Homo sapiens: one gene and its partners. The protein of the gene in region 1 interacts with the protein of each later gene in a pairwise test. Each region holds a gene or a part of one and is shown on either strand. Other genes may lie near its edges. The genes, in order: CRY1, CLOCK and NPAS2.

Region 1 (3,753 bases):
GACTGACAGCATTAATAAAATGAGATAGACAAGAGATGCAAATGGTGCAAGGGCTGAACCTTGAATACTCTTAATGTTTATAAATTGTGGAGCTGTGAAAGAACCAGCATATGAGACTGCGAAGGAGCCACTAGTAATGTAAGAAGAAAACCCAGAAGAGTATGGTGTCTTAGAAGCCAAGTAAAGAAAGTATTTTGGTCAGGCATGTAATCCCAGCACTTTGGGAGGCTGAGGCAGGCAGATCACTTGAGGCCCGGAGTTTGAGACCAGCCTGGCCAATATGGCAAAACCCCGTCTCTAGTAAAAAACACAAAAAAATTAGATAGGCGTATGGCACATGCCTGTAATCCCAGCTACTCGAGGAGGCTGAGGCAGGAGAATCGATTGAACCCAGGAGGCAGAGGTTGCAGTGAGGCGAGATCGTGCCACTGCACTCCAGCCTGGGCAACAGAGCCAGACTCTGTCTCAAAAAAAAAAAGAAAAAGAAAAAAAAGAAAGAAGGAAAATATTTCAAGGAAGAGTGTTTTACTTACGTCAGATGCTACCGATAGGTCAAGAGGAGAACTGAAAAATAAAAATTGGATTTAGCAATTTTAGGTCATTTGGAATTTTATCTGGAGTGGTTTTGGTAGTGTCAGAGGCAAAAGTCTTTTTGGAATCACTCATAGTACCAAATTCAGTGCTTTTTATATAGTAGTAGCTCAATTATTGTTTGTTGAATATAGTGATATCTTGGAGTCAATAATTTTATATTTAAACAGCTTTATTAATTTACTTATTGACTATGGGATAATGCCCAAATTCCTTAGCCTGGCAAGATCTACCTTTTGGCTTATGTATTTCATTTTCTGCTGTTTACAATATGTGATTTCAACTCCAGGGGGAAAACCCTCTTAGTTTTCTTTAGAAGCTATCTTGTATTTTCTTCGGTCAACACTTTTTAGACTTTTGGATTTAACAGAAAAGCAAAATTTTAAATAGTATTCTACCTAATAAGCACATTAACAAAACCACTTTTTGATATTGCCATCCTTTCATTTAAAAAGGATGTTTTATATTTAAAAAAAAAAAGTTTGGCAGAGCTCAATGTCTCATGCCTGCAATCCCAGCTACTCAGGAGGCTGAGGCAGGAGAATCACTTGAGCCCAGGAGTTGGAAGCTGCAATGAGCTATGAATGGGCTACTGCACTCCAGCCTGGGTACACAGAGAGACCCTATCTCTTAAAAAACAAACAAACAAACAACAACAACAAAAAATTTGAAGGACATTGTCTCAGAATAACATGTTTTTGATTTGGGTAAATTTACAAGCTTTATGAAAATTTGCATCTCTTAGAAAAATTATCCTATACAAAAACTTATACACTAACATTCACAGAAGCATTATTCATAATAGCCAAAAGGTGGGAACAACCCAAATGGCCATCAGTTGATGAATGGGTAAACAAAATATGGTATATCCATATAATGGAATATTATTTGGCCATAAAAAGGAATGAAGTACTGATATACGCTACATGTATGAATGAACCTTAAAAACAAACTAAACGAAAGAAGCCAGTCACAAAATTCCATGTGTTATATGATTCTGTTTATATGGAATGTCCACAGTGGGCAAATGTATAGAGAGAGGAAGCAGACTAGTGGCTCCTTAGGACTGGGGAAGCTAGGGAGTTGGGAGGTGATAGCTAAGGGGCACAAGGTTTCTTTTTGAGATGATGAAACTGTTCTAGAAGGTGATGGATGATTGTACAACTCTGTGCTTGTCTGGGATGATTAGCAGTATTCTGAACTCTTGCACCACTTTTTGCTGTTGCTCCTCACATCACTCTTAGCATTTGCTGCCCTCATTTGTGAATGTTAGTATTGTTTTATTAATAGTTTGTTTGAGCTGCTATAACAAAATACCTTTAGACTAGGTAGTTTATAAACAACAGGAATTTATTTCTCACAGTTTTGGAAGATGTCCAGAATCAAGGCACCAGCAGATTCAGTGTCTCTGCTGAATAGACGATGCTTTCTCTGTCTCCTCACATGGCAGAAGGGGTAAACAAGTTCCTGCAGCCCTTTTTATAAGAGCACTCCCTTAGTCTGTTTGTGTTATTATAAAGGGATACCTGAGGGTGGGTAATTTATAAAGAAAAGAGGTTTACTTGGTTCATAGTTTTGCAGGCTTTACTAGAAGCATGGCTTCAGCCTCTGGTTCTGGTGAGGACCTCAGAAAGCTTTTAATCATGATGGAAGGGGAAGTGGAGCTGACATATCACATGGCGAGAGAGAGAGGGGAGGGATACCAGTCTCTTTTTAATAATTAATTGTTCTGTTAATTAATAGAGTGAGAAGTCACTCATTACGTGATAGCACCAAGCCATTCATGAGGGATCTTATCTCATGTTCCAAACACCTCTCACCTCCAACATTGGGGATAACATTTTAACATGAGATTTGAAAAGGACAAATATCTAAACTATATCACTCCACTTCTAGCCCCCCAAATATCTTGTCTTATTTATTTATTATTTTTATTTTTATTTTTGAGACGGGGTATCACTCTGTTGCCCAGGCTGGAGTGCAGAGGCGTGATCATGGCTCACTGTAGCCTCAACCACCTGGGCTCAAGCAGTTGTCCCACCTCAGCCTCCCAAGTAGCTGGGACCACAGGCATGCATTACCATGGCCAGGTAATTTTTTTTATTACTTGTAGAGGTGAGATCTCACTAAGCTGTCTCATACTCCCGGGCTAAAGCAATTCTCCTGCCTCAGCCTCTGAAAGTGCTGGGATTATAGGTGTAAGCCACCATGCCCACCCTCTTTTTTCTATTGTAAGATATAATCATCTCTTTCAAAGTCCCCAGAAATCTTAACTAGTTTCAACATCAACTCAAAGTCTAAAATCTTATCCGAGACTCAAGGCAGATTCCTTATAGCTATGAACCTGTAAGATCAAAAACAAGTTATCTACTTTTAAGATACAATGGTGGAACAGACATTGGGTAAATATTTTCATTTTAAAAGGGACAAATTGACCAACAAAAAGGGACCCACCCAAGTCTGAAACCTACAAGGGCAGACATTAAATCTTAAAGCTGTAAAATAATCTCGCTTGACTCTTGTCCCATAACTGAGCACACTGGTCCAAGAGGTGGGCTCTTGAAGCCTTGGGCAGCCCCATCTCTATGGCTTGGTTGGGCACAGACCACATGGCTTCTTTCATGGATTGGAGTCTAATGTCTGTCACTTCTCCAGGCTGAGGGTGTGTGCTGTTTTCATCCAAAGGATTCTTTTAATCTTTCCACTTCCTCACTTTCCACTCCCTCCCACATCCTGAGCACACTGGTCCAAGAGGTGAGCTCTCAAAACCTTGGGCAGCTGCATCTCTATGGCTTGGTTGGGCATAGCCCACATGGCTGCTCTCATGGATTGGAGTCTAATGTCTGTCACTTTTCCAGGCTGAGGGTGTATGCTGTTTACATCCAAAGGATACTTTTAATCTTTCCACTCCCTGACTTTTCTTTTCCTTTTCTTTTTTTCTTTTCTCTTTTCTTTTCCTTTCTTTCTTTTTCTTTCTTTCTTTGTTTCTTTCTTTTTCTTTTTCTTAACAGTATTTAACACATTTGACCACACCTTTCTCTTCTTCTCTTGGCTTTAGTTAGACTGCCACCACTGTGGGTCCTGGAGGGCAGTGCCCCTGTTCCCGCTGCTCTACAGTGAGTTCTCTGTGGGGACTGTAACCCCATATTTCCCCTTGGCACC
Region 2 (3,753 bases), on another chromosome or scaffold:
AATGAAAAGGAAGGAGATCTATAATACCAAATAATTAGTGAAACTCCTTTATTTCAGATGGAAGACGTGAGCAAATTTAAAAGTAGATAGTAAGGACCCTTGGCCAGGTGCAGTGGCTCTCGCCTATAATCCCTCCACTTTGAGGCAGGAGGATTGCTTGAGCCTAGAAGCTTGCAACCAGCCTGGGCAACATAGTGAGACCCCATTTCTATAAAAAATTAAAAATTAGCCAGGCATGGTGGCTCACACCTGTAGTCTTGCGTACTTGGGAGGCTGAGGCAGGGGGCTCACTTGAGCCCAGGAGTTCAATGCCACAGTGAGCAGTGATCATGCCACTGCACTCCAGCCTGGGTGACAAATCAAGACCCTGTCTCAAAAAAAAGAAGAAAGTAAGGACCCAAAGGTGTAGATGCTAAAGGAATAAGGAACAGTGATGTGGCCCGGGTCCTAGAGAAAATAGGAAAGACTATAAATGGTAGAGATGGAAGGATTAGCTTTAGAATGTGAAGCAAAACTTTCCTTTGAAAGTGAGTAAAGAATGAAAAGGATGAGTAGCTAAAAATAGGGAAACATTAAGTTGTTTGCACCAGAAAATCTATTTTTTCTATTAAAGACAAAGTGAGATCCTCTCCTGAAGGTGCTCTACTTTTATGAACTAAATGTCATTGACGACTTCTGTTGGGGAAAATAATGGTTGTAAACTTACACAACTTTTATGATCTTACTTTATGTGGTATATCAATCATTGTTTTATATCAGAAATATGTGATTTTTAAAATCTCTTTTATTTCAGCAAAAAATCAGTTAGAATTCTGTTGTCACATGCTGCGAGGAACAATAGACCCAAAGGAGCCATCTACCTATGAATATGTAAAATTTATAGGAAATTTCAAATCTTTAAACAGTGGTGAGTTAAAATGCTTCTCTCACAATGTGTTTTAACTTGTTATTTTTCTGTGCTCTTAAAGACATAGATGTTTGAATATCAGTGACAATTAGGTTTTGCTGGCATAACTGATGATACATATTTCCCTATTGTTTTAGTATCCTCTTCAGCACACAATGGTTTTGAAGGAACTATACAACGCACACATAGGCCATCTTATGAAGATAGAGTTTGTTTTGTAGCTACTGTCAGGTTAGCTACACCTCAGTTCATCAAGGTATGTTTTTAATTTTATTTCCCAAAGGGGATTTCAGTTCATATGCTGAGAGCTGCCTGAAACTTCCTGCAGACATTGAGGTGGAATGGCTATGAGTCATTAAATATGCATGATAATATTTTTGAAACGATGAGTTATCAAGACACTCATTAAATTGTATAACTAATTTTTTAGTATATATCCTTTGCAGTTAACCAGTGATTATTATATATCAATATTGCCCTACTTTTGTGGAAGATTTTAGGATCCTTTTGTGTGTTGTTCATTATCTCTATTAAAAGGGAAAGTCCAAAAATCTAGGTTTTTGGAATCTTTATTTTTAGAAGGTAACTTTTAAATTTTTATTTGAAATGTACAAGTGGCTCTTTGCCACATATAACTTACCTTTTCAAATGTAAAATTAGGTATTTTATTTTTATTTCCTGGACCCAACAAACAGATGACAAGTAGGGAAGTGGGAAAGTGAAAGAGTTAACCACTAGAAACTGACTGGAAAGAGGCAGCCAGGCTAAGATTTAAAATTTCGGCGGGGCCAGGCGAGGTGACTCATGCCTGTAATCCCAGCACTTTGGGAGAGCAAGGCGAGAGGATTGCCTGAGCCCAGTAGTTTGAGACCAGCCTGGGCAACGTGACAAGACCCCATCTCTACAAAAAATACAAAAAATTAGCCAGGCATGGTGTTACACACCTGTGGTCTCAGTTACTCAGGAGGCTGAGGCAGGAGGATCATTTGAGCCCAGGAGGTCGAGGCTGCAGTGAACTGTGTTTGCATTTTATTTTGAGACAGAGTCTGACTCTGTCTCAAATAAATTTGGGGGGACATCATAGTATAGGACAAAGTACTGAATTAATAGAAGATCTTAAGCCAGTCTTGCTTGGTTTGTTTTGATCTTATGAAATAATAGTTGTTAACATTTGAGTGCTTACTACATGCTGTGTATTTTATATGCATTATCTCATTAATTCTTATGACAACCCTATAAGTTAGATGCCATTACGATCCCTCATTTTACATTATAAGGAAACAGGCTTAGGGAAGTTAAGTGACTTGCCCAAAGTCTCAGCTATTAGTGATGAAACTGGGACTTGATTCTATTAATTAATAATTGTTTTTTTCTCAAAGCCCAAGCTCTCAACTATTACAGAGTGCTGCAGGTCATTCAGGGACACAGAGGCAGGATGGAATACATTGTTTAGTATGACTAGAGTCTAGGGTTAGTGTGTGGAGGGGGAAGAGATAGTGGGAGGTAAGGCTAGAAAAGTAATCAGAAACCAGAAATAAAATTTGTTTCTTTCTTGTTTATTTCTCCATGCTGAAGAGAGTTTAGCACAAGGAACCACTGAAGGTTTTTTAGCAGGGAAGTCATATAATATTTGAGTATTGGTAAGGTAATTGTGGCCCTAGAAGAGAAGATGAGTTGAAGGACAGGGAGACTGGTGAACACTGTAGCAAATCAGTGATGGCAGGGGTCTAAACCAATGCACTCAAGATGGATGAGATAGAATTGATTTTTAAAATACTTAGATGAAATGGAAAAGATTTAGTAATGGCCACTTAGATGATGAAAGGTAAAAATGAAAGAGTATGTTTTTTTAACTATCAGATTTCTAGACACTGGCCACTACACATGTATAGAATAATACGGAAAATTGTGTGATTGGGTGTGAGGAGTAAAGCAGTTAGTTTATTTTAGGACATATTGAATTTGAGATGTATGAGGACATTCAGATATTTGGAAATATGGAACTGTAATTCAGGAGAGAGGTCTGAATTTTGAATAAGCGTTTATAGGCATGTGTGAATGGAAAATGTGTAGAGTGAGAAGTACCCACCCAAAAGCTTGCATCTAAAGGTTATTTATTACCACATTCTTTAGTACTGGAAAATTAAAATATATTAACTTGTTTAGAAGGGCCTGCATTTTGGCTTATGCCTAGAATCCCAGCACTTTGGGAGGCTGTGGTGGGCAGGTTGCTTGAGCCCAGGAGTTGAAGACCAGCCTAGACAACATAGACCCCCCACCTCTACAAATAAAAATACAAAAATTAGCCGGGCGTGGTGGTGCATCCCTATAGTCCCAGCTACTTGGGAAGCTGAGGCAGGAGGATCGCTTGAGCCTAGGATGTTGAGGCTGCAGTGAACTGAGATCACACCACTGTACTTCAGGCTGAGTGACAGAGTGAGACCCTGTGTCAAACAAAGAAATAGGTAAATATATACATACATAGAAACAACTAACTTGTTTAGGAAAAGTTTATCTAGTAATGACTATTTATTTATGTATTTATTTAACCTCCACCTCCTGGGTTCAAGTGATCCTGCTGCCTCAGCCTGCCGAATAGCTGGGATTACAGGTGCCCGCCACCGTGCCCTGCTATTTTTTGTATTTTTAGTAGAAATCGGGTTTCACCATGTTGGCCAGGCTGGTCTCAAACTCCTGACCTAAGTGATTTGCCCACCTCAGCCTCCCAAAGTGCTGGGATTACAGGTGTGAGCCACTGCACCTGGCCATGACTTATTTTTATATGTAGCAATATTTAATATTCTTAAGGACACAAAGTATTTATAAATTTTAATTATTTATTTGTA
Region 3 (3,753 bases), on another chromosome or scaffold:
GCCTGTAATCCCAACTACTCTAGAGGCTGAGGTGGGAGAATTGCTTGAACCCAGAAGGTGAAGCTTGCAGTGAGCCGAGATTGCGCCACTGCACTCCAGCCTGGGTGACAGAGCGAGAATCTGTCTGTCTCAAAAAAAAAAAAAAAAAAAAAAGTTCTAATGGGTACTACAGGTGAGGCATCTTTTAAAGCACAATGTTAGTGGTCGATTCATGCATTAGGATCAATAGGTCAGTGTTCCTATTTCAAGTTAAGAGTTGGCACTGAAAATACAGCTGTAAGTGGTTAATTCTTGAAACCACTTGCTAAGTGAGAACTCGGACAAGCTTGTAATTCTCACTCCCCCACATCGTAAGTCCCATCCCCCATACATTTGCTAATGTGTTCGCCTCGTATGTGGCAAAGAGCCTTCCCTGAACCCCAGCTGTGAGGGTCCTCTTGAGTCCCCCAGTATGCTGTGTACATCCCCTTCAATGCACCGACCACATCCCACAAAGTCACCCATTTCTGGCTTTCCCAGAAGACCTGCCCTGCGGGACAGCAAGTAGGTACTGATCATCCCCATATGCCAGCCTACTCAGTATCTGGCCTATGGTTAGTGACCAATACTTATCTGCTGATGAAAGAACAGTTATGAGAATTCGGTATTTTATCTCTGAAATGTATTGCATAACTTAAAAAAAAAAATCCCTGCATCACCTTAATTTCTTAATTAGGTTTAAACAGGGCGCCTATCTGGATGACAGTGGGAAGGTGCTAGGGTTTGGGGCCAAGTGAATTCCAGTGACATGGGGGTAGACGCGGATAAGGGGCCTCCACCATGCCCCCAGATCATCTCAGAGAAAACCAAGTTCCTCACCTTAAAAAGAAACCAGGTAACGAGCAGAGGCTTCTGGAGTCCCAGAGCCCTGCTGCTGGGCCCCAGTGGAGTGAACGCAAGGCCCCCATGCCTGGGCTGGGCAGTGGTACTCACGGTGCTGGTGACACCTGGCCAGGAGCTCCAGGTCATCAATGTGGTAGTAGTCATAGCCTGAGGTTCCCAGCACTTCAAAAGGCAGGTATCCTATGATTGGAGGTGCTCTGCACAAGGACAAGGAGGACTTGTCATCAGGGAGGAGACACCCTGCAGGGCTCACCCTGGTGGCCATGCCTTTCCATAATGATCAACATGGAGGCCTCATTTCTCAAGAACAAGGGGAGAAAAATAACTTTGTAATGGTCAAAATCAGAGAGGCTGTGTTTTCCAAAGGGCTCAGCTTTTTTTTTTGGCATATAGATACTCCTTTCCCTTGGCATAACTTGGCCCAAATAACAATAAGCTTTATCACTACTGGGTAATTAAAAACAGCTACAAATTGGATCAGCCCAACACCAAAGTGTAATATAAATTAAAGGGTGGGGAGGGGAGATTTGGAGTTCTTCAACTGCAAATAATGTTACAAAAGAAACAGTAAAGATTGGGCTAAAAGATCAAAGGATGTTGAAAAAAATGAGATGAGAGATTTCTCTCACACTTGCTGCTGCCTTACTGGGAGCCGGGAAGGGCCTCAAGTGAGGATCATCCCAAAGATGGCCCGGGGCTGAGCCATCAGACCCAAACACAGAACATATTCACGATGGGGCAGATGAAGTTGGAGGGAAACCACCCACCCTTGGCAGGGACGACTTTTCCTAGTGCCAGAGAGTCCTCCTCTTTCAATGGACCAGGGCCGACTCTTCTCTCCCAAGGAGAGCCTGGCTCACGCAAACAAGACTTGAGAAGGGCCCAACCCAAATATGTTTTTCTTTTCTCAAACCTGTGATCCAGAAATAAAAATTTCCATTCCAAGCTATGCCTTGAAGTGAATTCCTCTAAAGGTTCGTCAACTATGCACATTTCCTGTATTGGAAGCAGAAAAAAAAAAAAAGTTGCTTGGGTGCCAGATGCTCACCCTAGGTTTGTTCAAGAGGAACGCGTGGTGGGTAACAGAAGTTAAAATCATTTCGAGCAAGTCTCCAAGTCGTGTTGGACTGAAACTCATCATCTGTAGCTAATTTCGGTATTAGCTGATACTAAATTTATTTCACAAGCTAGGGAAAAATACCTAGGAGCCAGAATGTCACACCATCCCTTCCCATTATCGAGAAGTGGCAAACATGTGGAAAATGGCTTTTCATCGGAATCTGAATTACTCATTTAACTCAACATTCATGCCATCGATGTTGAAGCAATCACAGATGAGAGAAGGCAGACAAACCCCCAGCGCTCCAACACTCGGTTCTCACCCAGGCCTGGCCTGCATGGTATTAACGCCGGTGTGAAAGGTGGGAAGATTTACAGTTATCAGACAGCACTTCTGCGGGCTGAACAGCAAGCGATGCTGCCTTCAAAGAGAACCACTTGCAGGAAACGGGGCAGGGGAAAGGGCGTGTGTGCAGGCACAGAAGCCAGACACTTCGATTTTCAAAGCCAGTGACAACTTCACTGCAATTTATTCCCTCCCAAAAGACCATTAATTACATATAACAAAATGTGAGTCAATCATAACAGCTCCGCACAATGAACTGCCTCTCAGGTACTTGCCTTTAAGAATTGTGGTGTTGCCAGACGAACGGTGGCAATGAAGCAAACCTCCTTTCCTAGTGGCACCCGGCAAGGTCTTGAAAGGGTGTTGTCAAAACCATTACAGGAGGGGCTAGGCACTGGGGGGTTGGGAAGAAGAGGACACATAGGTTAGCCCTGTCTGGTGACAGCAGCCAATCCCTAGTTGGCACTTAACTGTAAGCCAAGCGCTGCCCCCAGGGTTTATGTAGAGTATATTAACTCATTTCATTTTCACAACTGGATGAGGTAGGTCAACTATTATTCCCATTGCAAAAAGAGGAAACCGAGGAACAGAGGGAAGTAACTTGTGCAAGACCAAAAAGCTTGCTAGAGCTGGGATTTGAGCCCATGCTGGTCACCAGCATTCAGCACTGCCTCTCACTTCCACTAGCCCTATGGCTTATAATGCTGGGAAAAATAGTCTACAAAATGAGAACACAGGCCAGGCACAGTGGCTCACGCCTGTAATCCCAGCACTTTGGGAGGCTGAGGCGGGAAGATCACTTGAGGCCAGAAGTTCGAGACCACCATGGCCAACACTGTGAAACCCCATCTCTACTAAAAAACAAACAAACAAACAAAAACAAAAATTAGCTGGGCATGGTGGTGTGTGCCTGTAATCCCAACTGCTTGGGAGGCTGAGAATCACTTGAACCTGGGAGGCGGAGGTTGCAATGAGCCAAGTTAGCACCACTGCACTCCAGCCTGGGTGACACAGTAAGACTCTGTCTCCAAACAAAACAAAACAAAACAAAACAAAACAAACAAAAAAAAGAGAAGACAGCCTCATTCTGCAGTAACGGTTTGAATACTCCAGCCAGTGTTTTAAGGTGAATTCTATAATCAGTGTTCCTGATACTGATGGTCCCAGGGAAAGTAGGGGTGTCTCGGCATCATTGACACCCCCTTCCCTGCCCCTGTCTTGGCTGGCATACCTGGGGTTCAAGGGCCTCTGTCCTGAAACTCCCCCTTGGGAGCCCAGGCTGATACAGGGGTTGGGTCTGGGCCACTGAGGAGACAGGGCTCAGGATTTAGGGGTCACCCCCAGAGGAACACAACGCCTACAACAAAACTTGCTAGTTCCCTAGTGTGGCCCAGGTGACAAAATCTGCTCTCACGCATCTTCTTACATCTTCTCAAACATCTAGGAGGGCATTACTGTCCTAGGCC

The links.
Region 2: the proteins of CRY1 (region 1) and CLOCK interact in a two-hybrid assay, tested with the Homo sapiens proteins (one study listed by BioGRID).
Region 3: the proteins of CRY1 (region 1) and NPAS2 interact in a two-hybrid assay, tested with the Homo sapiens proteins (one study listed by BioGRID).

The regions. Positions count from the first base shown.
Region 1 is NC_000012.12:107,086,822-107,090,574, reverse strand, and holds part of CRY1 (cryptochrome-1), read left to right. Parts: intron 1-3,753.
Region 2 is NC_000004.12:55,456,302-55,460,054, reverse strand, and holds part of CLOCK (circadian locomoter output cycles protein kaput), read left to right. Parts: intron 1-793; coding exon 794-907; intron 908-1,044; coding exon 1,045-1,163; intron 1,164-3,753. UniProt on the Homo sapiens protein: Transcriptional activator which forms a core component of the circadian clock.
Region 3 is NC_000002.12:100,962,986-100,966,738, reverse strand, and holds part of NPAS2 (neuronal PAS domain-containing protein 2), read right to left. Parts: intron 2,682-3,753; coding exon 2,563-2,681; intron 1,879-2,562; coding exon 1,796-1,878; intron 1,080-1,795; coding exon 973-1,079; intron 1-972. UniProt on the Homo sapiens protein: Transcriptional activator which forms a core component of the circadian clock.